Regions from separate parts of the Homo sapiens genome. Here all the other regions are linked to region 2. The links come from fine-mapping of genetic effects on gene expression. A gene starts in region 2. Each other region holds a variant in brackets. All regions are shown on one strand. Distances are between the middles of the regions.

Evidence for each region. PIP is the estimated chance that this variant, and not a neighbour inherited with it, causes the effect.
Region 1: its variant is fine-mapped to the expression of GIMAP6 in whole blood (INTERVAL, PIP above 0.99).
Region 3: its variant is fine-mapped to the expression of GIMAP6 in whole blood (TOPMed, PIP 0.97).

What each region holds. Positions count from the first base shown.
Region 1 is chr7:150,606,281-150,614,467 of GRCh38, forward strand. It overlaps the pseudogene TRPC6P3. Among named protein-coding and RNA genes, the nearest start is that of GIMAP6, 22 kb to the right of the region's middle. The variant T/A (reference allele first, on the strand shown) is at 4,161.
Region 2 is chr7:150,628,697-150,636,883 of GRCh38, forward strand. It overlaps GIMAP6 (GTPase, IMAP family member 6), which reads right to left and starts at 3,689. Exons shown (of 3, transcript NM_024711.6): 1 at 3,473-3,689; 2 at 1,362-1,446. The coding sequence starts at 1,446. RefSeq lists silencers at 631-831, 851-1,051 and enhancers at 3,100-3,179, 3,450-3,539, 3,550-3,639.
Region 3 is chr7:150,582,780-150,590,966 of GRCh38, forward strand. No RefSeq gene overlaps it. Among named protein-coding and RNA genes, the nearest start is that of GIMAP4, 19 kb to the left of the region's middle. RefSeq lists an enhancer at 3,747-3,926. The variant C/T (reference allele first, on the strand shown) is at 4,816.

The DNA.
Region 1 (8,187 bases), 22 kb before region 2:
CCTCCTCAAGTGGGTCCCTGACCACCGAGTAGGCCAACTGGGAGGCACCCCCCAGTAGGGGTGAACTGATGCCTCACACGGCCGGGTACTCCTCTGAAACAAAACTTCCAGAGGAATGATCAGGAAGCAGCATTTGGGGTTCACCAATATCTGCTGTTTTGCAGCCACCACTGCTGATACCCAGGCAAACAGGGTCTGGAGTGGACCTCCAGCAAACTCCAATAGACCTGCAGCTGAGGGTCCTGACTGTTAGAAGGAAAACTAACAAACAGAAAGGACATCCACACCAAAAACCCATCTGTACGTCACCATCATCAAAGACAAAAGGTAGATAAAACCATAAAGATGGGGAAAAAACAGAGCAGAAAAACTGGAAACTCTAAAAATCAGAGCACCTCTTCTCCTCCATAGGAACGTAGCTCCTCACCAGCAACAGAACAAAGCTGGATGGAGAATGACTTTGACAAGTTGAGAGAAGAGGACTTCAGATGATCAAACTACACCGAGCTAAAGGAGGAAGTTCCAACACATGGCAAAAAAGTTAAAAACCTTGAAAAAAAATTAGGTGAATGGCTAACTAGAATAACCAATGCAGAGAAGTCCTTAAAGGACCTGTTGGAGCTGAAAACCAAGGCATGAGAACTACGTGATGAATGCACAAGCCTCAGTAGCTGATTCAATCAATTGGAAGAAAGGGTATCGGTGATGGAAGATGAAATGAATGAAATGAAGTGAGAAGGGAAGTTTAGAGAAAAAAGCATTAAAAAAAATGAACAAAGCCCCCAAGAAGTATGGGACTATGTGAAAAGACCAAATCTACGTCTGATTGGTATACCTGAAAGTGACGGGGAGAATGGAACCAAGTTGGAAAACACTCTGCAGGATAATATCCAGGAGAACTTCCCCAATCCAGCAAGGCAGGCCAACATTCAAATTCAGGAAATACAGAGAATGCCACAAAGACACTCCTCGAGAAGAGCAACTCCAAGACACATAATTGTCAGATTCATCAAAGTTGAAATGAAGGAAAAAATGTTAAGGACAGCCAGACAGAAAGGTCGGGATACCCACAAAGGGAAGCTCATCAGACTAACAGCTGATCTCTCGGCAGAAACTCTACAAGCCAGAAGAGAGTGGGGGACAATATTCAACACTCTTAAAGAAAAGAATTTTCAACCCAGAATTCCATATCCAGCCAAAATAAGCTTCATAAGTGAAGGAGAAATAAAATACTTTACAGACAAGCAAATGCTGAGAGATTTTGTCACCACCAGGCCTGCCCTAAAAGAACTCCTGAAGGGAGCACGAAACATGGAAAGGAACAACCAGTACCAGCCACTGCAAAAACATGCCAAATTGTAAAGACCATCAAGGCTAGGAAAAAACTGCATCAACTAACGTGCAAAATAACCAGCTAACATCACAATGACAGGATCAAATTCACACATAACAATATTAACCTTAAATGTAAATGGGCTAAATGCTCCAATTGAAAGTCACAGACTGGCAAATTGGATATAGAGTCAAGACCCATCAGTGTGCTGTATTCAGGAAACCCATCTCACATGCAGAGACACACATAGGCTCCAAATAAAGGGATGGAGGAAGATCTACCAAGCAAATGGAAAACAAAAAAAGGCAGGATTGGCAATCCTAGTCTCTGATAAAACAGACTTTAAACCAACACAGATCAAAAGTGACAAAGAAGATCATTACATAAGGGTAAAGGGATCAATTCAACAAGAAGAGCTAATTATCCTAAATATATATGCACCCAATACAGGAGCACCCAGAATCATAAAGCAAGTCCTTAGTGACCTACAAAGAGACTTAGACTCCCACACAATAATAATTGGAGACTTCAACACCCCACTGTCAACACTAGACAGATCAATGAGACAGAAAGTTAACAAGGATATCCAGGAATTGAACTCAGTTCTGCACCAAGTGGACCTAATAGACATCTACAGAACTCTCCATCCCAAATCAACAGAATATACATTCTTTTCAGCACCACACCACACCTATTCCAAAATTGACCACATAGTTGGAAGTAAAGCCCTCCTCAGCAAATGTAAAAGAACAGAAATTATAACAAACTGTCTCTCAGACCACAGTACAATCAAACTAGAACTCAGGATTAAGAATCTCACTCAAAACTGCTCAAATACATGGAAACTGAACAACCTGCTCCTGAATGACTACTGGGTAAATAACGAAATGAGGGCAGAAATAAAGTTGTTCTTTGAAACCAATGAGAACAAAGACACAATATACCAGAATCTCTGGGACACATTCAAAGCACTGTGTAGAGGGAAATTTATAGCACTAAATGCCCACAAGAGAAAGCAGGAAAGATCTAAAATTGACACCTTAACACCACAATTAAAAGAACTAGAGAAGCAAGAGCAAACACATTCAAAAGCTAGCAGAAGGCAAGAAATAACTAAGATCAGGGCAGAAATGAAGGAAATAGAGACACAAAAAACCTTTCAGCAAAATCAAGGAATCCAGGAGCTGGTTTTTTGAAAAGATCAAGAAAATTGATAGACCGCTAGCAAGACTAATAAAGAAGAAAAGAGAGAAGAATCAAATAGATGCAATAAAAAATGATAAAGGGGATATCACCACCGATCCCACAGAAATACAAACTACCATCAGAGAATACTATAAACACCTCTACGCAAATAAACTAGAAAATCTAGAAGAAATGGATAAATTCCTCGACACATACACCCTCCCAAGACTAAACCAGGAAGAAGTTGAATCTCTCAATAGACCAATAACAGGCTCTGAAATTGAGGCAATAATTAATAATTTACCAACCAAAAAAAGTCCAGGACCGGATGGATTCACAGCGGAATTCTACCAGAGGTAAAAGAAGGAGCTGGTACCATTCCTTCTGAAACTATTCCAATCAATAGAAAAAGAGGGAATCCTCCCTAACTCATTTTATGAGGCCAGCATCATCCTGATACCAAAGCCTGGCAGAGACACAACAAAAAAAGGGAATTTTAGGCCAATATCCTTGATGAACATTGATGCAAAAATCCTCAATAAAATACTGGCAAACCGAATCCAGCAGCACATCAAAAAGCTTATCCACCATGATCAATTGGGCTTCATCCCTGGGATGCAAGGCTGGTTCAGCATATGAAAATCTATAAACATAATCCAGCATATAAACAGAACCAAAGACAAAAACCACATGATTATCTCAATAGATGCAGAAAAGGCCTTTGACAAAATTCAACAATGCTTCATCCTAAAAACTCTCAATAAATTAGGTATTGATAGGATGTATCTCAAAATAATAAGAGCTATCTATGACAAACCCACAGCCAACATCATACTGAGTGGGCAAACTGGAAGCATTCCCTTTGAAAACTGGCACAAGACAGGGATGCCCTCTCTCACCACTCCTATTCAACATAATGTTGGAAGTTCTGGCCAGGGCAATCAGGCAGGAGAAGAAAATAAAGGGTATTCAATTAGGAAAAGAGGAAGTCAAATTGTCCCTGTTTGCAGATGACATGATTGTATATCTAGAAAACCCCATCGTCTCAGCCCAAAATCTCCTTAAGCTGATAGGCAACTTCAGCAAAGTCTCAGGATACAAAATCAAAATCAGCTACTAAATGGGTGAGAAGCATTTAGTGAGTGCTTAACGCACTCCAGGACGTTGGAATCCAATGATGAACAAGGAAGTGTTCTTCATCAGCCACAACTGTAGGAGACAGACAGCAAGTAGTTAAAATACAAGATCTAAACTACTTTGTCCTGGGTATACCTGGCACCAATTAGGTATCTTTTTTGAGAAGGAAATGTTTCCACAAAGAGGTCAGATAGATTATTTAAAATGGTAAACTGAGGCACAATCAGATATATAGTGTTTATTTGAGTAACAAGCAATTCATGAATTGGGAAACACAAAACCAAAAGAGGGTTAGTGTTTCAATGACAAAGAATCAGAGGCAAAGATTTGTAGGATGAATGTGGATGCAAAATAAATACAGTATTTGATTGTTTGCAGCTATAATATCATCTTTTTTGGTTTATGTTGTTGGAAATCCCTAAACTCATGAACATATATTAGTCAGCTGCTTATGATTGGCTGAGACTAAGTTTCATTTCTGTTCAACATAAGCATTTACCAGAAA[T/A]GACCCAAGTTAAAATTTTGCTTCTGTTTGCAGTTTAAGCAATGTTAAGGCTATTTTTAATTTTCCATTGGTTTTGTTTGCTCAGCAATGTTTAGGCCCGGTCTCCATTTTAATTGTGCTTTAAGAATTTTCCCTTTTTAGTTATTTCTTCAGCAAGCTGACAGTGTGACCAAATGGCATAGCATTACTCTCAGTTACCAATGTTGATGTAGTCCTTGGAAAGAAAAGTCAGGAAGATGTTGTTGTCATCATTAATCGTTATGCTGGGGTTCAGAGTTACAAAGCTACTGTGAACAATTACTTGGTCCATATTCGTTTCCTTGAGTTGGCTGATCCTAAGGGCAATCTTTTGACATGTGAGTGGCCACTGGAAAGAATAAAAACCCTTGATAGAATGTAATGCACCAGGAGGTAAACACAATAACTATAAGGAGAATAATAGCCAAGAATTGAAAAATTCCTCTGAGCAAAGATTCCCAGGAGTCAAATTTAATCCACTAAAGAAATCAATGCCCATTCAGTATGATATTGGCTGTGGGTTTGTCATAGATAGCTCTTATTATTTTGAGATATGTCCCATCAATACTTAATTTATTGAGAGTTTTTAGCAAGAAGGGTTTTTGAATTTTATCAAAGGCCTTTTCTGCATCTATTGAGGTAATCATGTGGTTTAGGTCGTTGGTTCTGTTTATATGCTGGATTACATTTTATGATTTGTGTATGTTGAACCAGCCTTGCATCCCAGGGATGAAGCCCACTTGATCATGGTGGATAAGCTTTTTGATGTGCTGCTGGATTCGGTTTGCCAGTATTTTATTGAGGATTTTTGCATCGATGTTCATCAGGGATATTGGATAATCCTGCTGCTATAAAGACATCATGCTGCTATAAAGACACATGCACACATATGTTTATTGTGGCACTATTCACAATAGCAAAGACTTTGGAACCAACTCAAATGTCCAACAATGATAGACTGATTAAGAAAATGTGGCACATATACTCCATGGAATACTATGCAGCCATAAAAAATGATGAGTTCATGCCCTTTGTAGGGACATGGATGAAACTGGAAACCATCATTCTCAGCAAACTATCACAAGGACAAAAAACCAAACACCGCATGTTCTCACTCATAGATGGGAATTGAACAATGAGAACACATGGACACAGGAAGGGGAACATCACACACTGGGGCCTGTTGTGGGGTGGGGGGAGAGGGGAGGGATAGCATTAGGAGATATACCTAATGCTAAATGACGAGTTAATGGGTGCAGCACACCAACGTGACACATGTATACATATGTAACAAACCTGCACGTTGTGCACATGTACCCTAAAACTTAAAGTATAATAAAAAACATTAATGGAGAAGGTGGGACTTGTCTGATGAAAGATTTATATTTGTTTCTTAAGATCCTTTAAATTGGAGGCAATAATTTCTAATTTGTTAACATAGAAACATCTTTATCACTATAAGCAGAATCTTCTTTCACAGTTTTTTATTTGTACAAATTTATAGGGAACATGTGAATTTTTGTTACATGTACATAATGCACAGTGAAGGGTATTTAGGGTGTCCATCACACAAATACAGTATATTTTTGTTTAACTATAGTCACCCTACTCTGCCATCAAACACTGAACTTATTACTTCTATCTAATTTTATGTTTGTCCCCTTTAACACAATTCTCTTCATCCACCCTCTACTTTCTCAGTCTCTGCTATCTTTTCACTCTTTTCTACTTCCATGTGATCGAATCTTTCAACTCCCACATATGATATTTCAACTCCCACATATGATATTTTAACTCCCACATGTGATATTGTTCTTCTTGTGCTTGGCTTATTTCACTTAAGATAAAGACCTCCAGGGAGATCTGACAAGATGGCCGAATAGGAACAGCTCTGGTCTGCAGCTCCCAGCAAGACCAATGCAGAAGACCAGTGATTTCTGCATTTCCAACTGAGGTATCCTATTCATCTAGGAAGTGGGAGCAGCTCATGTGTTGGGGTGATTGGACCCAACACCAGGTCATGGGGGTGACGAAGTCTGGCAGAGTCAAAGGAATGAGAAAAGACGTTTGAGAGAGAAAGTGGGCCCAGGGGTCCAACGTGAGTATGGAGGCTGCGAAGGTCCCAAGCTCTGGAAGCCCAGACTATTTATTGGTGATCAAACAAAGAAACAGGTGGTGAGAATGTGGGGTTGAAAGGGAGTATTGCATTAAGCACATGATTTACAGCTGTGATGGTTTAGCATATGCTCTGCTACTTGAGATAATGGAGAGAAGGTTCTTCTAACTCAAGATACAATCGATCCTGGGAGAGCAAGAAGCAAGGAGCCAGCATCTAGACACATTCCAGAGGCCATGAGGGGTTTTATGCCCTGAGCCCTGGATTCTATCCAAGCCATGAGGGGTTTTATCCCCTGGGCTTAGATTATGGTGCATCAGGGTAGCCTTCCACCCTTTAGCACAGAGCTTGGTGTTCCAAAGGCCAAGAGAGGTTTCAGACCCCGGACCCTGGACAGGTTCCAAGACTTTTTTACATTATGTCAGACATGCAAGCCCTGCCTCAGTTTTTCCCAACACTCAGCTTTTCCCAACATACCCCCCTTTTCTTTTTCATAAAACCACCACAGCTATCATTGCTTGTTCTTGATGGCAGCTTTCTCTTCAGAGGCGGTTTCCTCTTCAGAGGCAGCTTCTGCATCTGCAGACTAAAAGGAGACAGCACAAGCACACAACAACCAGAAAGAAACCCACAATGTAGAGCCTCCAATGGCCTTCAACTATAAATCTTTTGGAACGGGATAAGAGTTTTTTAAGGATCTCAGTTACAATATAAATACTTGGTGATGTTTCCCATAGTCTATTTAGAGACAGAGGGATCAAACTCCTTCCCTGGCTTTAATTATCAAGATAGTTATATTTTCATCAAAGGTTGAATTAATGCAGGTAAACAAGCAACAATCAGGGCATGTAATAAAGTGTGTATTATATCAAGAGTAACATTTCCTATTGCTAGCACGACTTTGAATCCAAAAGGTCCTGCTGGAGAGAAAAGAAAGAGCATTTTCATCCTTACCTCCTTCCCCTCTATTCCTTTTATATTTGCCCTCTCAGATTTTGATTGGACTTTGAGCCATAGCTAATTTCCATAATTCAGAATGTTCTTGTCTGTCCCTGCAAATCTCTGCTTGTCTTTGCTAGTCTCTACCTTTGTACCTCTTTAGGGCACTGACCAGTACCTCTTTAAGGCACTAACCTTATATTGCTAGTCTTTGCTTTTGTACCTCACTGACCAGTACCTCTTTAGGGCACTGACCAATACCTCTTTAGGGTACTGACCTTATATTGCTGGTCTTCATCTATCCGTATCTGTCCCTGTCTGTCCCTATGGTACCTGTTATTTCCTGTGAGTTCCTGCAAGTCCCTGTATTTTCCTACCTATCTCTACTTATCTCTATCTCTACTTACTTATCTCTATCTCTATTTACCTCTATCTCTATCTCTAGTTATGTCTATCTCTGTCTCTATTTATCTCTATCTCTATTTATGTATATCTCTATTTATGTCTATCTCTACTTACTTATCTCTACATCTTCCTGGAAACCTTTTTTATGACCCACATCAGCATCATCCTCAATTTCCTGGAACGAATTGTTGATCATGGCAATTAACATATTTAGCAAAACAATGACCATTGTAACATTACAGACTCCATAAAGAACATAACCAATGTTTTCAATGAATTTGTGGTTATAGTTGATGATCACTGATTTCACTTCAGAAAGTCCAAATATAGCCCAGAACATTGTCTTAAAACTCTCTTCAACGTTGTGAAGGCTTCATTTTGTTTTGCACCAATGTAGTAGGAGTAGAGGTTGAACATTCCAATCATAAAGGCCACAAACACCATAATGAATATGACCATGAACCTGAAGATGTCTTTGACTGCTCCTCCAAGTGACGTCTGCAGAGGTCCAAAGCTTTCATTTGCTGGCAAAATACAAGCTATCCCAGA
Region 2 (8,187 bases):
GTTCTCTCCCAGTGCAAGAGCAGAGCCTAGAAAGAAGAGCGAGACTTGGCCAATAGAACACCAAGAAACCCAATACCAAGGTTTTTAGATATGACTGGGGAAGAAGGCAGGAAGGGAATTCCCTTCTCCTGGCCTTGCGGGTCCCAAGACCCAGAGCACATAAAGAAGTGACAAGTAATAGCTGGTTTCCCAGTCTTGTCCCCACTGAAGACATTGATGTATCTCAGATGACAAAGCATGAAGCTGGCATGTGGCAGCATGGGCGTGGCCATCTCCTGAATCTCCTGGGCACCAACAGGCCTTGCTGTGGCCTGACAGCCACCCTTGGCTCTGACCCACGTGCCAATTCTAACTGAGTGACATTGGGCCCCCTCCAGCTTCCCCAAGGTGGCTGGAAGGAATTTGAATGAATGGGCAGAAGTCTGGGCAGTAGATCTTCATCCCCACCCACCTAGCCCAGTGCAGAGCCAGAGGAGACAGGAACCCCCATCTGAGCAGCCTGGAGCTAGCACACACCACTGGACTTTACTAAAGCCAAATGCATCACTTGAGCTCTGGAGAGGATTCTTAAAAGAATAGCTAACCTTGATTGCTATAACAAAAGGTCAAACAGGTGTTACACAGGTATTGGTAATGTCCCTATTGTAGTAGGTTAACGTGGCTTTTTCCAGATGGCTCAGGCCATTTAAGTTCATAAAGTAAAAGGTCATTCATATTAAAATACATAATGAATCACAAATCATTTCTTCTGGCCAGGAAAGGGCTGGGTTTCCAGCATTTGTAAATCCTGCCTCCCCAGGATGAATGACGAAGTTGAGCCCATGAAAGTTAAGCGCCTGACCCTGTGCAATGGCTTTTGGGAAAGGGACGCCCTCGATAAGGCAGAGCCCAGATCTGAGGCAGCAGCCAAGTACATTCTGCTTGTGCACAAGGCGCTTTCAAACTTACAACTGTGACAGCTCCACTTCGGAGTCAGCCAAACACCCATACAGGGTCTGTTGGCATCCAAGCCTCAGTCCAAGGCCACTTATTTTCGTCACACGCACTGTCAGCACATCCATCCTGAGGAAGAACATCTACCATGTGAAAGCATTTCCTTTGGGACTGGCATGGTGATTTAGTCATTGGTGCTATTTCTCGCCTCCTTTTATCTACCATACCTATCCAGGGGTCTTTTTTCTTATTTTTGGCTAGTGATAAGAAGGGCCCTACCCCAAAGGCCTCTGATGGTGGCTGAGGCGGGTAAATTTCTGTGACTGGGGGACGTCAGCTTCCTCTCCAAGCACACTATGGTGGTGGAGCTGTGTCCCACCTGCACCCCAAATGTTTCCCACTTGCTCCCCTCTCCTCATTCATTTTACCTCCTGACAGCTCCAGCACAGGATCCTGGGACAGCTCTTCTGGGGGATTCTCCTGGGGAATTTGTTCATATTCTTCTTCCTCCATCTACAAAAAAAAAAAAAAAAAAAAAATCATATGTTCTACTGACTTTCCAAATGAGTTTCAACAGCCACCTGCCTTTCGCCTTTCTCTTGCCAGAGGAAAGTTTTTTGCATTAGTTTAGGGTTGGGGTGGGACTGAGTGAGGCAATGGAAGAAGGGGTCTAAGACACTCTCTGCTGGCTTTAGGGACCCTATTTCTTTAGGGATGCTATCCCTCGCCCCCTTCATTGTGGTCTCCATCATAAGTTTAAGAGATTTTACAGATAAAGGTGCAACTGGCCTGGGAGCTGAGGAATGGATGAAATTTGGATAGACAAAGGGTCTGGAACTGTTCTGGGAGGTGGGGGGAGGTGGAGGAAGGGAAGAAGGAGGAGGTGGAGGAAGGGAAGCACAGAAGCAGGTGTGATTCTGATCCTGTGTTCCCTGGGAGCAGCAGGAAGGCCTGGTGTGCCTGGAGGACGTGAATGAGTAGGATGTTGTTGGGAGGGGCCACTTGGTGGGCCTTGGGGCCAGACTTTGGAGAAGACTGTGCAGTGAGGGTTACAGAGGACTGGGATTGCAGGGGCTGAGCTGGGAAGGAAGCCAGAGACCTCAGGGGAGAAGCAGCCACCAGTTAGCTCTGTCTGGGCCTCAGCATCCCATCAGTAAGAATGTTGGGCCTGAACTAGATGCCTGTGAATGTCTCTTCCCCTATTAAGGTCTCAACATACTTCATAACATTTTTTAGAGCAATTCTTAGTCCTTTTTGCAAATTAGGGCCACATCATTCCCAACCAGGAACTCCTGTCCCCTTTCCCATGACAGCAATGTGTCCTGGCTTCATAGACTAACACAGTTCTCTGTGCCAAGATCCCATAAGGTTCTCTCTGCTGGATTTTCTCTGTGGGACTGAGGAGGAAGTTGCATGGTCCATGACTGTTTTTCCAGATCATGTAGGACATTCACAACCAGATGAAACAGATCCAGATGAAGGGTCTGGGGTGTGGGGAAACCTAAGTCCAGGGGAACCTGATAGACATGTTTTTCTCATTGCCACATTGTTAGATGTTTGTTCTATTCTGTTCACCTGGCAAACACTCCAGTCCTCCCCAGATCCCAGAAGTATATATGCGGATATTGCTTTATGATTGGTAAAGATCAATTTTGCAGTGCTGGGCTGGGCATGGAGGGAGTCCAGGAAGGTCTGTTGACTTTCTAGGAAGAAAGAAGAAGCAGGCCAGGCGGACAGCCTTACTCAGACCTGAACAGCCAGATTCTGGAAGGAGTACAATATTTCACCTACCAAAGGGAGTTAGTTCTTCCTAACTGGTGGCCTCTCAATCTCTTTGTCCCTGGCTTCCTTACATCCCTGGTGGAAATTGAGGCAGCACTTTACCAATGTAATCTCATTCCTCCTTTAGAGAGAACGGGCAGGCAGCTTAACAGGAAACAACAGCCGGGTGGGACTAGGCTGTGGCATGCAGGAACCTGCACTGTGCCTTCGCAGGGTTCGGGGAATGGGTCTGCACGCAAGGCACCTCCCTGCCTCCTCCTAGACCCTCCCCGGAATGGCACCTCCCATGTTGGCCACAGTGTGCATTGTCTCCAACACAGAAGATGGAACAGATAGTACCATCCTTGTCATATTGCTCTGGAAGAAAGCAAAACTCAGAGAAGCATCTTGCCAAATATTAAACAGTGACTTTGTCACAAGGCAAAAAGTTCTCCAGACGTGTTGGTCACAGCTCTTTTTATCACATTACAAACCTGCACACACCACAGCACACACAAATACACAACACACACACATACACAAAACACATGTACCACTCACACACATGCAGGTGAACACACAAACACATACACAAACACAAATATACATACACAACACACACACAACACTCACATACACACACAACACAAACATCACACACACAAACATCACTCACACACATTCATGTTAACACATACAAACATGTAAACACACATGTACAACACAAACACCCACACATACACATCCAAATATGACACGCACAAATACTCAGACTTACCTCTGCACCAGCTCACAGGCAAGAGAAAGGACCACGTTTCTGGTCTCCCGGCCACGCACTCTCACGGAGGAGGCAGAGAAAAGCTTCCACAGTGTATGAACACAAGGAGGACAAGGCCGATGTTTGCTTATATTTTCAGCAAAATGTTTTCAGAGAGCTGGGCTGGAGACCTGCCCTTGAAAGAGCAGTGTCCGCTGGAGATGGAGGAACAGGAAGTGGGTAGGAGCACCGGCCTTCCTGAGTCAGAAGAGTCTGCTGTTGCACTTTGCAGCCTCGGAAGTAGAAAAAGGGAGGATACCAGTGGTGGGATTATTTTTATCCTGAGCCAGGATAACTAGAACTCAGAGCTTAAAAAGAGGCAGATGCCTCAGAAAGATTTGTGTCAGGAGGAGTGACTTTCCCTGATCTCTCTTTTCTGAACCCCACCTCTTCCCCAGGGAACTTCTATGCCTCAGTATTGGGGCAAACAGTCATTGTCTCCTTTCTTCCCCAACCTCTCCTTCCTTTAATAGTTTCTCTCAGGACAAGGTCTGACACTCATTACCTCTAAGGCATGAATCATTGGTAATTACAATTGTTACAGCTTCTAGAAGATCTGCACTATAAGAAAAGGGAAAATACAAAAGAATGTCTAAAATGTAGGATTAAAGAGAGCACTTGTTATGGGGGAAGAACAATATTTTAAACACAGGCCAAGGGAGAAAACACCTCAGCATCCTCAAAAACATGTTTTCTAGGACTTTACTGACAGATCTGATAACTGTGGCTAAAGGGAAGCCATTGAAGGAAGAAATTCAGAACATAGGAGCATAGGTGATGATATTGTTACCACATGATTTTAAAATGTTAAGATTCCCTAAAAAAATTCCACTCAATCTACTATAATAGTTCTAATTTTCTTTGGTTCTGTTCTGGTTGATAATCATGGTGTATTTATTAAAATTGTTACATAGTATGTGTGTGTGTACATATATATATCTTTTAATGTTCTACTTAAATTATTCTGTAAATACCCTGACACAATTAATTTTTTTTTTTTGAGACAGAATGTCATCCTGTCACCCAGGCTGGAGTGCAGTGGTGTGATCTCAGTTCACTGCAACCTCATCCTCCCAGGTTCAAGCGATTCTCATGCCTCAGCCTCCCAAATAGCTGGAATTACAGGCGTCCGCACACCCGGCTAATATTTTGTATTTTTAATACAGACGGGGTTTTACCATGTTGGCCAGGTTGGTCTCAAACTCCTGACCTCAAGTTATCTGCCCACCTCGGCCTCCCAGAGTGTTGGGATTATGGGCGTGAGCCACCGCGCCTGGTGTAACATGATTAATTCTTTTTTTTTTTTTTTTCTCGAGACGGAGTCTCGCTCTGTCGCCCAGGTTGGAGTGCAGTGGTGCGGTCTTGGCTCACTGCAAGTTCCACCTCCTGGGTTCACGCCATTCTCCTGCCTCAGCCTCCTGAGTAGCTGGGACTCCAGGTGCCCACCACCACGCCCAGCTAATTTTTTGTATTTTTAGTAGAGATGGGGTTTCACTGTGTTAGCCAGGATGGTCTCGATCACCTGACCTCATGATCTGCCCACCTCGGCCTCCCAAAGTTCTGGGATTACAGGTGTGAGCCACCACGCCCAGCCACTTAATTAATTCTTAAAAGTCATGTGTTGATCTTTACCATTCCATTGCCTAAGTGTTTAGAAAGTATTTAGAATGTTATTACTCCACCCATAATTGAAATTAACCATCTATTTTGAATTTTAATCATTTCCATCTTCTGCAAGCTGACTCTGGAGAGTTGCCCAGACCTGCAGTTGACTGAGCCAGGGATCAATCAGCTCAGCGTTTAGCCATGAGAATTGGGAAGTGTTTGTTACTGCAAGGTAATCTGGCCTAATCTAATTGATACAGCATATAAATCTGATGTTGGTTCTTTTGGTTTGTTTTTTATTTTTTGCTGACTCTCACTTTTGGTGATTTCTTTTCTGGAATTACATTCACAGTCTTTGATTGTGAACTTAAGTATGGAAATCCTTGGGATTGAAATCAAGGTGGCTTTACTCCAGAGAAGATTTGTGTACATTTTTATCAGGAACTGACAAGGGGGTGCTGGTACTACTAAACTGAGACCACTTCAACCCCATTTTCAGATTTCTGGCTTAATCCAGAAATTCCTCAATCTACAACTCACTTTACAACTGATTCCAAATTTAGGCTCCAGAGAGTATGGCTGAGAGCTTCATTTGCTCTTGGGGCAACCAATCTTCCCTTTGAGTTTATGGCTCTACTCCTGTTTCAGTTTATTTATTTATTTACTTATGTATTTATTTGGTTATTTAAAAAAATTTTGCCCACATGGTGTTATCCCTCACTTCCTGCAAGCCAAATAATGTAGTCCATTGTTTTGTTGAGGGAGGACTTCTCTATGCTAACACAGCATATTTACAAAGAATGTAATTCACAATCTCTGTTATGATCTTGTTTCTTTTTTTATTATTATTATACTTTAAGTTCTGGGGTACATGTGCAGAACGTGCAGATTTGTTACATAGGTATACACGTGCCATTGTGGTTTGCTGCACCCATCAACCCATCCTCTACATTAGGTATTTCTCCTAATGCTATCCCTCCCCCAGTCCCCCATTCCACAACAGGCCCCGGTGTGTGATGTTCCCCTCCCTGTTCCATGTGTTCTCATTGTTTGATTCCCACCTGAGTGAGAACAGGCAGTGTTTGGTTTTCTGTTCTTTTGTTAATTTGCTGAGAATGATGGTTTCCAGCGTCATCCATGTCCCGGCAAAGGACATGAGCTCATTCTTTTTTATGGCTGCATAGTATTCCATGGTGTATATGCACCACATTTTCTTTATCCCGTCTATCATTGATGGGCATTTGGGTTCATTCCAAGTCTTTTCTATTGTGAACAGTGCCACAATAAACATAGGTGTGCATGTGTCTTTATAGTAGAATGATTTATAATCCTTTGGGTATATACCCAGTAATGGGATTGCTGGGTCAAATGGTATTTCTAGCTCTAGATCCTTGAGGAATCGCCACACTGTCTTCCACAATGGTTGAACTAATTTACACTCCCACCAACAGTGTAAAAGCGTTCCTATTTCTCTACATCCTCTCCAGCATCTGTTGTTTCCTGACCTTTTAATGATCACCATTCTAACTGGCGTAAGATGGTATCTCATTGTGGTTTTCATTTGCATTTCTCTAATGATCAGTGATGATGACCTTGTTTTCATATGTTTTTTGGCTGCATAAATGTCTTGTTTTGAGAAGTGTCTGTTCATATCCTTCACTCACTTTTTGATGGGGTTGTTTGTTTTTTCTTGTAAATTTGTTTAAGTTCTTTGTAGATTCTGGATATTAGCCCTTTGTCAGATGGATAGATTGCAAAAATTTTTTCCCATTCTGTAGGTTGCCTGTTCACTCTGATCATAGTTTCTTTTGCTGTGCAGAAGCTCTTTAGTTTAATCAGATCCCATTTGTCAATTTTGTCTTTTGTTGCCATTGCTTTTGGTGTTTTAGTCATGAAGTCTTTTTTCATGCCTATGTCCTGAATGATAATGCCTAGGTTTTCTTCTAGGGTTTTTATGATTTTAGGTTTTAGGTTTAAGTCTTTAATACATCTTGAGTTAATTTTTGTATAAGGTGTAAGGAAGGAGTCCAGTTTCAGTTTTCTGCATATGGCTAGCCAGTTTTCCCACTACCATTTATTAAATAGGGAATCCTTTCCCCATTGCTTGTTTTGGTCAGGTTTGTTGAAGATCAGATGGTTGTAGATGTGTGGTGTTATTTCTGAGGCTTCTGTTCTGTTCCATTGGTCTATATATCTGTGTTGGTATCAGTACCATGCTGTTTTAGTTACTGTAGACTTGTAGTATACTTTGAAGTCAGGTAGCGTGATGCTGTACTACAAGTCTACAGAACTTTGTTCTTTTTGCTTAGGATTCTCTTGGCTATGCAGGCTCTTTTTTTGGTTCCACATGAAATTTAAAGTAGTTTTTTCTAGGTCGGTGAAGAAAGTCAATGGTAGCTTAATGGAAATAGCATTGAATCTACAAATTACTTTAGGCAGTATGGCCATTTTCACAATATCGATTCTTCCTATCCATGAGCATGGAATGTTTTTCCATTTGTTTGTGTCCTCTCTTATTTCCTTGAGCAGTGGTTTGTAGTTGTTCTCCCTGAAAAGGTCATTCACATCCCTTGTAACTTGTTTCCTAGGTATTTAATTTTCTTCATAGCAATTGTGAATGGGAGTTCACTCACGATTTGGCTTTCTGCTTGTCTATTATTAGTGTATAGGAATGTTTGTAATTTTTGTACATTGATTTTGTATCCTGAGATTTTGCTGAAGTTTTTTTATTAGCTTAAGGAGTTTTGGGGCTGAGATGAGGGGTTTTCTAAATATACAATCATTTCATCTGCAGAGACAATTTGACTTCCTCTCTCCCTATGTGAATACCATTTATTTCTTTCTCTTGCCTGATTGCTCTGGTCAGAACTTCCAATACTATGTGAATAGGTATGGCGAGAGAGGGTATCCTTGTCTTGTGCCAGTTTTCAAAGAGAATGCTTCCAGCTTTCGCCCATTCAGTATGATATTGGCTATGGGTTTGTCATAAATAGCTCTCATTATTTTGAGATATGTTCCATTAATACCTAGTTTATTGAGTGTTTCTAATATGAAAGGGTGTTGAATTTTAT
Region 3 (8,187 bases), 46 kb before region 2:
ATTGAGGGCAGTTACACCCCAAGCACGATGTTTCTTGTGATTAGGTACATCTGAAGCTTGTTAGTAATCATATGAACCTGTGATCAATTAAGAAGCGGACCAGTAGTTACCTCCTGCTCTCTGGCCATTCTACCCAATAAATACGAAGTGCAGTAGAAGCTCAGGGGCTGCTTTTGCTCACTAGAAGGAGGAGTGCTATTCTTCTTCCCCAGTTCCCCTTCCTATAAAAGTTTCTTTTGTCTTAAGCTTTCATTTCTACGTTTGTCCCTTCATTCCGTCTTGTGATGATGGTTTCAAGTAGTAACAGTAGTAACTGTCATAGTGACAGTCTCAAGTAATAACCATGGCAGTCAGCCAAAAGTGGCACCTGAACAGGGACAAACAGGGACTATCAGAGACAAAAAGAGACCTGAAGGGACCTGAAGAGGCCTGCAGGGACAAATAGAGATAAGGAGGGATAAATGGAGATAAATAGACAAATAGGGACAAATAGAGATAGGTAGGGAAAGACAGGGACTTGCAAGAACTTGCAGGAACTAACAGGGGCTATAGGGACTGAGAGGGACAGATAGGGATAGATAAAGACTAGCAAAACTTGCTGGGACAGATAGGGAGAGTTGGGTCCTAAAGGGACTTGAATGAGGAAGGTCTGCTGGAACAGAAAAAACCAAAGCCCAGAAAAAATTAAAACCAACCAGACGAATGAGAAACCCTGTTACAAGTCTGCCTGCAGCAACATAAGGTCAGGGCCCTAGAGGTACAAAGAATGGGAAGTTTTTGAATCAGGGTAACATGGGGAAGAATTTGGCTATTTCTTCGCTCTTTTGTTTGGAGTTCGGTACGTACTATCTTTTTGTTATTTCAGGGTTTTAGGGAATTTTTTGCCCCACCTACAGCACCTATCAAAAGTAGTGAACAGGAGAGGGAGAATGGAAATTGGCTTGTACCATCTTCCTTTGTGGCTACAGAAAGGCTAACTTTAGCTTTGGCTTTCTGGGATTGTAAACCTGCATTGGCACCTGTGAGATGTGCAGAGAACTTGGGAGGTTTTCTCGGAGCTTGTCGGGATGTGGGAACTGAGCTTCATTGCTCTGCAGTATTGACTCAGACAATGGCTAATTTGGTAGCTGACAGATCTAAAAGAAGCCAAGGGTCAAGCCCTAATGTGGGAAAGTGTTATAAGTGTAGAAAAATTGGACATTTCAAAAAAGAACACTGCCAGACCTCTGGGCAAAAGGGATCTTGTAACACAGTTCCCCTCTTAACAGAAAAAATGCCAGGACTTGGCCCTCATTGCAATAAAGGGAATCATTGAGTTAATCAATGCCACTCAAAGTTTCATCAAAATGGCAGCCCCCTCTTGGGAAGTGAGAAGGGGGCCTGGACCCTGGCACCTCAAAAAATGAGGGCATTCCCTGTCCAGAGAACAGCTTCATTTCAGGGATTGGTTTCCAGAGGCATATTGATTCCCTCTCCCCAGGAACACCTGGAAGCGCAGGATTAGATGGCCCAGTTAGAGAGCAGGTTACGTTAATTGGAAGAAACAAACTCACTAAGATTCCCATTGGCATTTGTGGACCTTTGCCAACAGGATACATGGGATTAATTTTGGGCAAAAGCTGTCTTAACTTACAGGCCCAGGAGTTGGTAATTGGGATTGTGAAGGAGAAATTCAAGCAGTGGTAACGTCACAAGATCTTTGGGTTTTTGAACCAGGAGAATATATTGCTCAACTGTTGCTTATTCCCTATAAATTGTACCCCTCTCTACATAAGAAGAAGTGAGGAGGTCAGGGATTTGGAAGTGCAACTGGGAGAGAGACTTACCTATCACAACCCGTGGCATCTAATAGACCCACCTATACAGTGCAAATCAAAGGAAAGAAGTTTTATGGGCTTATGGATATAGGAGCTGATGTGTCAGTGTGTCAGTAATATCTAAAAACAATTGGCCCCTATCTCGGTCCCTAAAACTATCTTCTACATCCCTAGTGGGAGTAGGAACAGCTCAAAGTGTTCAACAGAGTGCTGAGATTCTGTCATGTCTCAGACTGGATGGGCGGTTCGTGTTTTGTGTCTCAAGGTTTAAAGGAGTCTTTTGCCCTGCACGTTGAACCCACCGGGGGTGGAGGGCAGGAGAGGGAGGATGAGAATTGGCCTGTACTGCCCTTTTCAGTAGTAGAGACACCTGTACTATCTTCTGAAGCAGAAACAGAGACCCTAATAGTTAGGCAGGAATATCATCACCCCTATTCAGCCTGAAGAAGTTACAGAAGACAGATCTTCATCCCTCTGCAACCCTTAGGATTAAGGGTCCTCTTGTAAAGGGGGAGATATGTCAGAGGCATTCAAACCAGGGCCGTTTCACTTGTTTCTGGGACTTCAACAAGCTGTTCACTCTCATGCTGCTCCTTTTCATGTTTCTAATGTTCACCCTCACACACTGCTCCCTGGGCTGCTCTCTTTGGGTGGTGATGGAATGAGAGACTGGAGAAGGATAAGCCTCGATTTGCTCTCTGTGTGCCTTCTGTTAATCAGAAAGAGCCAGCCTCTCATTATCAATGGAAAGTTTTACCCTGCGGTAATTAACCAAAGAGACAGAAGCTGAGTTACAGGTTGCAGAGCAGACGCTTCAGCAACGGCATGCCTCCCGGCTACAGCCACAAAAACTTTTTGCTTCTGCTTTGCTAGATTTACTAACGTGGGGGCGAGGGTATGCTTGTGTTTTCACAGCAAATGAACAAACCATGTGGGTGCCCTCAAGGTGTGTACAACCATGGAACAGGAGATTGGAGGGAACCATGGATCCCAGCCACAGGCCTGGTTCCCCCAGTGTGAGCCATGAGCCAGTTGAATCTGAATGTGAAGACGAACGAACCACCAACCAGCAATTGAAGGCTGCACATTTTGCAATTGCCTTATTCAATTAATTCAAAAACAAAAAGGGAGAAATGTTGGAGGACAAAAGATTGAGGGTCGTGGTCAATTCAGCATACCACTGGAGGCTATATGAGTAGGCAGCAAACTGTTTCTCAAATGCAGAATGTTGGCAGACCGACAAACTGTGTCTTCCACCCAGAAGGGATACTGAGGGCAGTGACGGCCAAGTGCAATGTTTGTTGTGATTAGGTACATCTGAAGCCTGTTAGTAATAATGTGAACCTGTGTTCAATTAAGCAGCTGACCAATCATTACCTTCTGCTCCCTGGTCATTCTACCCAATAAATACGAAGCGTGGTAGAAGCTCAGGGGCGGCCTTTGCTCACTAGAAGCAGGGAGCCCTTTTCTTCTTCCCCAGTTCCCTTTCCTTTAAAATGGTTTCTTTTGTCTTAAGTTTTCATTTCTATGTTCGTCCCTTCATTCAGTCTTGTAATGACGGTCTCAAGTAGTAACAGTAGTAACTGTCATAGTGACAGTCTCAAGTAATAACCATGGCAGTCAGCCACAAGATGATTTGGCACTGCTGAAGCATTCATAGAGCAGCATTCATCATCTATCTGACCTTTTTGTGGGAAATGTTTCCTAGCCCATTCAAGACACTTATGCTCATTGATGCTGGGTATACCCAGGACAAAGTAGTTTTGATCTTGTATTTTGACTACTTGCTATCTGTCTCCTACAGTTATGGCTGATGAAGAACACTTCCTTATTCACCATTGGATTCCAATATCCTGGAGTGTGTGAAGCACTCGTTAAATATTTTTCACCCATTTGGCAGTGGTACATCCCCCTTGCCCTTGGAGAATGGTAAAACTTGGCTCAAGCTGCATTTCCACAGCACACAGAATCCAAACTCCCTCCTGCAGGGAGCTTTCTGCACTCACTTCCTCATCCTTCCCCTACTTCCTCCTGCGTGTGCCACTGTCCTCTGTCTTACCCCATTTCATGCACTTGCAGTTCATTCACTTGAAGTTCAGTTTTCTGCCTAGTTTCCACCATCATAATAGTGATCAGCATTATGTAAGCTTCAGCAGCTTTCCTAGAGATTTTGAGTTACAGGGGAAGGTACCAAAGACAGCACTGGGCATTTCTATACCAAGCTCACTCTCCTCCCTCTGGCTTGGAAAGAGAAACTGTTTATCCCTCTACACCCAGGAGGAAACAACTCTGGAGTTGCTTAATAAATTGTCATCTTCTCAGGAATGCAGATGACTGATCAATTCCAGGATGTTAGAGAGCCTGACACCCACTGGAGCACTTCCTACTATTGTTTTAACTTTCCAAAAACAAGAAACAGACTGTCCTTTCCCCTTTGCCCTGTGGTGACCAGACATGACCTTCATTTTTGCTTTCTCTTTCCACTCTACAGTCACCAATGAAGGTCTCCTTCTGGCAGCTCTGCCTGGGTCAGATTCTGTTGGTTTTCTCTCCTGGGGCTGTCACTCTGTGGTTGTCAGGTGGCCCAGGATGGGGAATAACTCCCTTCTGTTCCAGTAGGAGGATTAAGACACTTACTTTGAGCTCTGGTCCCAGCTCTGGTCTCTACTCCATCTTTATTAGAAAGTCATATCCTTCTGGTAAAAAGACGGTATTTTGCCTGATTTGATTGAGTTCTTTGTGTGTTCTATGTCCTTCGGAATCCTGCAGGGGAGAAGGGTCTTTGGCACCCTGTCATTTACTAGGAATGTTGGAAATAGGGGAAATGCCTTGAACATTAGGTGTTAGGAATGCCAATTCCCAGGTTCCACTCTACACCTACTTCCTCAGAAAGTTTGTATTTTAACAAGCTTAAATGCATGCTAATGCTAGAGGTTCTTTGAGAATGCAATATTTGCTTCATAGACATATAGAAAAATCAGCTGCCAACATTCAAAAA[C/T]ATTAATAGAATTTTTTCAGCCATGTTAGCCTGAGTACTTTCTTCAGAATGGATTGTCTGCATTTTATCATTTCTCCAATTTCCATGTCAAGGCCCAGGTTTCCAGGTTACTAGACACTAGCGTTTTATACAGAAGTCTAGGTAATAAGATATGGAAACCCACATCCTCTTCTAGGGGAAAAGAGCCAGAGGGGAATGCAGAAAAATAAAGCAGTCAGATGTGTATCCTGAGTTTTGTCTCTCCAGATGTTGGCTCAGGAAATAGATATATTAGATATCAGAGTTCTACCCATCCCTTGAACCTTGGTCTGGGGAGTACTTTCAGAGTAACAGTCTTTCTAATGTGGCTGTGGCCACGTGTAGTTCCTCATTTTGAGGATCTAAACACCTTTACTTTTTGTCTGGTTTTCATCACTCTATGTTGCTTTCCAATATTTTATTCTTTTTAAAAAAATTATACTCTAAGTTCTGGATACGTGTGCAGAACGTACAGGTTTGTTACATAGGTATACACGTGCCATGGTGGTTTGCTACACCCATCAACCCGTCATCTATATTAGGTATTTCTCCTAATGCTGTCCCTCCCTCAGCCCCCCACCCCACAACAGGCCCCGGTGTGTGATGTTCCTCTTCCTGTGTCTATGTGTTCTCATTGTTCAACTCTCACTTATGAGTGAGAACATGCAGTGTTTGGTTTTCTGTTCCTGTGTTAGTTTGCTGAGAATGATGGTTTCCAGCTTCATCCTTGTCCCTGCAAAGGACATGAGCTCATCTTTTTTAATGGCTGCATAGTATTCCATGGTATGTATGTGCCACATTTTCTTTATCCAGTCTACCATTGATGGGCATTTGGGTTGGTTCCAAGTCATTGCTATTGTGAATAGTGCTGCAATAAACATATGTGTGCATGTGTCTTTATAGTAGAATGATATATAACCCTTTGGGTTTATACCCAGTAATGGGATTGCTGGGTCAAATGGTATTTCTGGTTCTAGATCCTTGAGGAATTGCCACACTATCTTCCACAATGGTTGAACTAATTTACACTCCCACTCTTGGGTATACACCCAAGGGATTATATATCATTCTACTATAAAAATGAAAAAGCGTTACTATTTCTACACTTTTACACTGTTGGTGGGCGTATAAATTAGTTTGACCATTGTGGAAGACAGTGTGGCAATTCCTCAAGGATCTAGAACTAGAATTACCATTCGACCCAGCCATCCCATTACTGGGTATATATACCCAAAGGATTATAAATTATTCTACTATAAATGCACATGCACACATATGTTTATTGTGGCACTATTCACAATAGCAAAGACTTGGAACCAACCCAAATGTCCATCAGTGATAGACTGGATTAAGAAAATGTGGCCCCTATACACCATGGAATACTATGCAGCCATAAAAAAGGATGAGTTCATGTCCTTTGTAGGGACATGGATGAAGCTGGAAACCATCATTCTCAGCAAACTATCACCAGGACAGAAAACCAAACACCACATGTTCTCACTCATAGGTGGGAATTGAACAATGAGAACACATGGACACAGGGTGGGGAACATCACACACTGGGGCCTGTTGTGGGGTGGGGGGAAGGGGGAGGGATAGCATTAGGAGAAATACCTAATGTAAATGAGGAGTTGATGGGTGCAGCAAAACAACATGGCACATGTGTACCTATGTATCAAACCTGCATGTTGTGCACATGTACTCTAGATCTTAAAGTATACTAATAAAAAATACATATATTTTTAAAAAGTGTTCCTATTTCTCCACATCCTCTCCAGCATCTGTTGTTTGCTGACTTTTTAATGATGGCCATTCTAAGTATTATGAGATGGTATCTCATTGTGGATTTGATTTGCATTTTTCTAATGAGCAATGATGATGAGTTTTTTCATGTTTTTTGGCGCATAAATGTCTTCTTTTGATAAGTGTCTGTGGATGTTGTTTACCCACTTTTTGATGGGGTTGTTTGTTTTTTTCTTGTAAATTTGTTTATGTTCCTTGTAGATTTGGATATTAGCCGTTTGTCAGATGGATAGATTGCAAAAATTTTCTCCCATTTTGTAGGTTTCCTCTTCACTCTGATGATAGTTTCTTTTGCTGTATAGAAGCTCTTTAGTTTAATTAGACCCCATTTGTCAATTTTAGCTTTTGTTGCCATTGCTTTTGGTGTTTTAGTCATGAAGTCTTTGCCCATGCCTACGTCTTGAATGGTATTGCCTAGGTTTTCTTCTAGGGTTTTTATGGTTTTAGGTTTTATGTTTAAGTCTTTAATCCATCTTGAGTTAATTTTTATATAAGGTGTAAGGAAGGCATCCAGTTTCTGTTTTCTGCATATGGCTAGCCAGTTTTCCCAACACCATTTATTAAATAGGGAATCCTTTTCCCATTGCTTGTTTTTGTCAGGTTTGTCAAAGACCAGATGGTTGTAGTTGGATGGCATTATCTTTGAGGCCTCTGTTCTATTCCATTGGTCTATATATCGGTTTCAGTATCAGTATCATGCTGTTATATTTACTGTAGCCTTGTAGTATAGTTTGAAGTCAGGTAGCATGATGCTCCAGCTTTGTTCTTTTTGCTTAGGATTGTCTTGGCTATATGGGCTCTTTTTTGGTTCCATATGAAATTTAAAGTAGTTTTTTCTAATTCTGTGAATAAAGACAATGGTAGCTTAATGGAGATAGCATTGAATCTATAAATTACTTTAGGCAGTATGGCCATTTTCATGATATTGATTCTTTCTATCCATGAGTGTGGAAAGTTTTTCCATTTGTTTGTGTCCTCTCTTATTTCCTTGAGCAGTGGTTTGTAGTTCTCCTTGAAGAGGTCCTTCACATCCCTTGTAAGTTGTACTCCTAGGTATTTTTTTCTCTCTGTAGCAATTGTGAATAGGAGTTCACTCATTATTTGGCTCTCTGTTTGTCTATTATTGGTGTATAGGAATGCTTGTGATTTTTGCACATTGATTTTGTAACCTGAGACTTTGCTAAAGTTGCTTATCAGCTTAAGGAGATTTTGGGCTGAGAATGGGGTTTTTTAAATATACAATCATGTCATCTGCAAACAGAGACAATTTGACTTCCTCTCTTCCTGTTTTTGAATACTCTTTATTTCTTTCTCTAGCCTGATTGCCCTGGCCAGAACTTCCAATACTATGTTGAATAGGAGTGGTGAGAGAGGGCAGGTTTGTCTTGTGCTGGTTTTCAAAGGGAATGCTTCCAACTTCTGCCTATTCAGTATGATATTGGCAGTGGGTTTGTCATAAGTAGCTCTTATTATTTTGAGATACATTCCATCAGTACCAAGTTTATTGACAGTTTTTAGCATGAAGGGGTATTGAATTCTATCTAAGGCCTT